2 separate regions of the Homo sapiens genome follow, and region 1 is linked to region 2. Evidence: fine-mapped expression QTL. A gene starts in region 2. The other region holds a variant in brackets. All regions are shown on one strand. Distances are from middle to middle. Region 1 overlaps LIFR-AS1 (LIFR antisense RNA 1). Region 2 holds the start of LIFR-AS1 (LIFR antisense RNA 1).

What was found.
Region 1: its variant is fine-mapped to the expression of LIFR-AS1 in tibial artery (GTEx, PIP 0.93).

What each region holds. Positions count from the first base shown.
Region 1 is chr5:38,594,869-38,597,793 of GRCh38, forward strand. It overlaps LIFR-AS1 (LIFR antisense RNA 1), which reads left to right. Exons shown (of 9, transcript NR_103554.1): 2 at 54-201. It also overlaps a transcript of LIFR not described here. Among named protein-coding and RNA genes, the nearest start is that of MIR3650, 39 kb to the left of the region's middle. The variant A/G (reference allele first, on the strand shown) is at 1,498.
Region 2 is chr5:38,555,601-38,558,100 of GRCh38, forward strand. It overlaps LIFR-AS1 (LIFR antisense RNA 1), which reads left to right and starts at 1,186. Exons shown (of 9, transcript NR_103554.1): 1 at 1,186-2,500. LIFR (LIF receptor subunit alpha) reads right to left here and starts at 1,046. Exons shown (of 20, transcript NM_001127671.2): 1 at 734-1,046. MIR3650 (microRNA 3650) reads right to left here and starts at 1,961; the gene lies at 1,902-1,961. RefSeq lists enhancers at 1,187-1,970, 1,323-1,432.

The DNA of each region.
Region 1 (2,925 bases), 39 kb after region 2:
TTGGTGAGCAGTGTGCAAGCTGGATTTTCCTAACCACTTGCTCTCTTCCTCAGGTGTCTGTGCGGTGCAGAAACTGTACAACTGTATACAGTGACCATTTCTACTCTGGGTCTCTAAACAAGGGCTGGTATCGTTACAGAGACTGAAGACTGAGGAAGACCATCTCTGTAGGATGCCAAGGATTGACTGGAGAAAGTCTGGGTAAGTACAGGTCACAGGAAACCACACAAGAAATACACTTTTGTAGGACAAAGAGGTAAGGTCAGAGCCCTGAGAGACCCTCACAACTGGTATTAAAGCAGAGTGAAAAGAAATCTAAAGGGGGGACAGGTCTAAGGGGACATGGGACACAAAGCCAGGAAGGAAGGAAGCAAACCCCAGCAGTGCTGTACCTGGAGGGCGATGAATGAGTCGCAGAGGCTCCCTTTCTGAGCTGGGATTAGGAGTTGATAATGGTCTTGCAAGTGCAGTTCTGCAGAGCGAAAGGGCCCGGTGCCTTGCAGCAGAGACACGTTCTGGGAGAGAGGGTTAGGATTTGAGTAAGTTCACACTAGGAGGCTATATATACATGTGTGGCATTGCCCAGGGACTGGAGGGAAAGAGGAGAAGGAAATGCATCACAACAATGACTGGAATGCATCAGCAGTGCAAAACAAAACTCTTGGGAAAACCAAATTGTGTCTTGGATTGTGGTTCAAGGAACTAGTAATGGGATAAAAAGCTTTTGCCTCCAGGCCAGCAGCATGAGTCCAACCCAGGTTAGGAGTCAGCAGTGTGTTTCAGATGTCAGTGTGAAAGGAATCCATGGGGCCAATCTAACCTTCTAGTATTAGAGTAATCCTGAAAACCACAATAGGTCTTTTTTTTTTTTTTTTTTTTTTTGAAACAGAGTCTCGCTCTGTCTCCCAAGCTGGAGTGCAGCGGCTCGATCTCGGCTCACTGCAAGCTCCGCCTCCCGGGTTCCTGCCATTCTCCTGCCTCAGCCTCCCGAGTAGCTGGGACTACAAGGCGCCCGCCACCGCGCCCGGCTAATTTTTTTGCATTTTTTCAGTAGAGACGGGGTTTCACCGTGTTAGCCAGGATGGTCTCGATCTCCTGACCTCGTGATCCACCTGCCTCGGCCTCCCAAAGTGCTGGGATGACAGGCGTGAGCCACCGCGCCCGGCCCACAATAGGTAATCTTAGCAGCCTGCTTCATGAGATGACTGGGAAGGGAAGATGAATTGTGATACTGGCTCATTCTTAGCCACGGAGGGAGCCTCTTTAGAATAAGACTGGAGCAATATGGACAATTTGTACCACTCCTTTATATATAGGCCAATGCTCCTCGAAGCTTGATTCATGGACCAGTTGCACCCAAATCACCCTGGGCTGCTTATTAGCAATGCAAACTTTCCTGGGTCCACTCTAGACCAAGTGAATCTGCATCGTTAGGTATGGGATCTGGGAATCTGCATTTTAGCTTCTTATGTGATTCTTGTGTACACCGAAGTTTGA[A/G]GATTATTGGGGCAGATCAGAGGTTCTCAAACTTTAGCAAGCATGAGAATCACATCACTTAAAGGGCTTGTGAGCTTACAGGTGCCTGGGCCCCACCTCCAGAGTTTCCAATTCACTATCTGGGATGGGGCTTGAGAAGTTACATTTCTAAAACATTTCCAGGTCATGCTGCTGGACTAGAGACCACACTTTGAGAACCATTGCTGTAAATAGAGCTCTTTACCTGGCTCGGACAGTGTAAAATCGCCCTTACCATTCATCCACATAATTCAGCTAGCTTCTACCATCCTGTCATATAGATGACTAACACCCATGACCTCTTTTTCACCTTGTTAGATAACTTCCAGTTTTAAATTGACAATATGAAAAACGATCACACCTGGTCAACCCTAATCTTGTATATTGTTCTGGTTCCAAATGTTTATATTATTATCAACACTGTCCTTTCCTCATTTTTGGCGGTGACCTGTTCAACTTTGTGTTACCTTGGGCTTCAAAATGCAAAATCAGCTCCTTTCTTTGCTTGCCATAAGAAATGGCATGCAAGAAAAAAAAAAAATGCTTCCAAAATAGAGGAACCTGAAAATATTCTGAAATTCAGAAGGTGTTATTTTGGGGAGCCTTTCTGGGACAGGATGTCCCCATCATCAGCTAGAGGAAGCCCAGCTTCTGATAAACAAAGTTGTGCCTTGCACAGATCAAAGGGAGCCATTTATTGAAGGAAGGGATGGAAGTATTTGATGAGGCCCTTCTGCAGACTCCCTGTAAACAGGATAAACCCTATCAATGAAAGCTTATACTCAGCCAGGCCACAGTCCCCAGGAACAATGGAGCAACAAGAACATTGGGTGGTGAGGAAAGAGCCTTGGTCCAGACAAGATTGTTCTGCCAAGAGAATGGCCGTAAACAGGATTAGTTGTAATGAGATTATGAACTTAGGACCTGGAGGCCTGAGCTGGAGAGTTCAGTGTTACATAAAGAAAAGACACAGAAGTAGCTCGTGGGGTGAGAGGATGCCAAAAGGACAAGGACTTTTCCTTCCTAGCATCCCTCTAGCCCAGGGGTGCCATCTCTCTGGGGAGGAAAAATTAGTCACTGTAATTGCACATATTGCTTGTGGGAGTAGACAAACTAGGGACTAAAGCACCAAAGTAGTGGGCCTCAATTAGGGGATGCTGGCAATGTCTGAAGACATTTTTGGTTGTCACAACTGGGTGAGGTAGTGCTACTAGCATCCAAAGGCAGAGGCCAGGGATGCTGCTCAGTATCCTACAATGCACAGGACAGCCTTGCACAACTAAGAAATATCCAGCCCCAAATGCAGAGGTTGAGAACCCCTGTGCTGGAGTGACGGAGAGGGAATCCAGCTAGGATGCTGGTAGATGACCAGCTGGAGACGGAGCGTGGCAGTGGTGGGGAGGGAAGGGG
Region 2 (2,500 bases):
TCAATAACAATACAGGTTATAACAATATTTGACTGCATTAAACATTCAAAAAGGAACACAAAGATACCCAACTGCAAATAAAAGACCTCATATATTTTTGGTAGCGGAATGTGGGGGGTGGGGGGCAAAAATCACATTAATTCAGATTAATCATGTAAATTCAGAACACGTGATGTGCAGTTTTGTGTCGCTCAGAACTCCTGAATCCAGCTTTGTGCTTTTACACAACATAACAGAAATGGCATCTTTCACAAAGCCTAACTTTGACCTCCAACACTTTAACTTTGGGTTTAACCAGTACACCACCTTCGGAAGTTAGCACATAAAAATACAGGTAAGTCAAATGCACTACGGATACAGAAAGGACGAGGAACAGGTTTAAAGGGGAGTTGAAGCAGAGGGGCACGAAATCACCTGGCAGGTCACCTCTCCGAAGGAAAAACATTTCAAGCTCCCTCCCATCCCCCAGGTAACCTCTGGCCTCAGAACTCACTGCCCTGCGTGGGGCAGAAGTTCTGGGCGCTGGAGTCCGCGTCCCCCAGGACACGAGGGTGACCCAAGGGCGCGCGGAGAGCGGCGGGACCCGGAGCGGCGCTCTCCGGGGTCACTCCCCTAGGACGCTCCGCAGAGCTGGGAGCGCTGCCCCACCCCGCCCGGGCCGCCCCTGGGGACCCCGCTCGGGGCTCCGCGGCTCCCCTGCTCCGCGCCGCGCCCACCCGCCCCCAGGACTCACGGTACGCTCCCGCGCCGCTATCTTGCCATCCCCTGCCGCCGGCTCTGTAGCCTCGGCCGCCGCCCCGGGGCTGCCCAGATCCCACAGCCGCCCGGGGGCAGGAGCCGCCAAGGAGGGGGCCGGGCACAATGCGCCGCCGCCTCCGCAGCCGCCGTCTCGCCTCCCCTGTGTCGGCGCGAGGCTGCTTGAGGCGGCCACGGGCGAAGGGCGGCCCGCTGCGCTCCGCGAACCCCGCGGGCCGCCGCCGCCGCCAGAGCCTCCCAGAGGCAACGGTAACGGCCACCGCCACGGCCGAGTCGCTCCAGCCGGGACTGCGGCGCGCGGGGGCGGCGCCTGCACGCCGCTCGGCTGGGGGCGCAGCGGGCCCGGCCCCGCCCCTGACCCGCCCCTGCCCCCGGCCCCGGCCCCGCCCCAACCCGCGCGCCCCCGCCGATCCCCGGCCGCGCGCCCGCGCGCGCGGGTGCTCCAAGGAGTCGGAGGAACGCGGCCGCGCGACGGGCCCCGGACGCCGAGGGTGGTGCTTCCTCCGAGCCTCCGGTGGTGAGGCCGCTCTCAGAAGGTCATGGAAGCGCAGGGGAGAGCGAGGCGGCCGAGCCCAGGCAAATCCTCGAGAAAGGCCGAGTGCGCGACGGCTCTGCGGGGAGGACCGCGCCTCCCCGAATGCGGCCGCTGCTGCCGCTGCAAACAGTGCCTTGAGGAGAGGAAAGCGGGGAACCGTGTTTTCGCCGCCTCTGTAACCACTGCACACAAGAAAACCAGCTTCTGGGAGAGGGGGATGATTGTTGGGACTTTGCGAATTACCTAAACAGCCCAGGGCCGAGGCGCCGCCGCTCGCGTCCTGGTCCTCCTGCCGGGTGTGGGGCTCCCCTGCCCGAGATGGCCAGCGGGCGCGCCGAGAGTATCCTGGAGCCATCTAGTCTTGCCTCGGAGGCGGGGTGGGCTTATTTGTGCGGAGAAGAAACGGATCTCTTAATGGGGTGAGATTTTTCCTCCGTACATTGTTCCCATTTCCGCAGTTTCACTTGGCCTCGGTTTTCTAGCAGAGTAATCACCAAATGAAATTAGCTGGAGAGCGTTTGATGGCGCAGAATCACGGTCTGAAGATGTTTACGCTGTATGCCGGACGCGTTTGATGGTGTTCTCTTCGGCACAATTAATTTTGCAAAGTTCAGAAATGTGCCAGACAGAGCCCCTGGCACGCAGTCAGGACTCTACAGACACACCTTGAGTAGGAAACAGGCTTGTTTGTTTCATCTGTGATTTATGTGATGCACCAGCACCAAGGCCAACGTGTTTTTTAAAGACCTTTCGATGAAACTCCAAAGCAATTTATAAATTGGCAAAATGAAGCTTGTTTTGTAAAATAACTCTTCCTTGTTGATCATGTAATTAAATGGGCAACAAAACACCTGAAAGGACATTTACTGAAAAGTAGACTCCCAAAACAAAAATATGTATTTCACAGCTAGATACGGTCGCTATTAGCGTCCTAATGGCCAACTCCATCCATGTGCGTATTTTGAACACTAAAAACGCCTCCTGTTACCCCTAAGACCTTGTTTGGATAACATTTTTCTATTATAAGTACTCGAAACCAACCCCATTTAAGATGTTTACCCTTATTCTTGAGTCCTTGATGGTTTGGGAAATTTATCATTATTCATATTGCACAATCCTGTCACTGTCTTTTCCATTAGGCACAGTGCCTAAGGTCCACAATATTTTTAGAGGCCCACAAAAAATATTTTAATTTCTTTTCAAATCAGA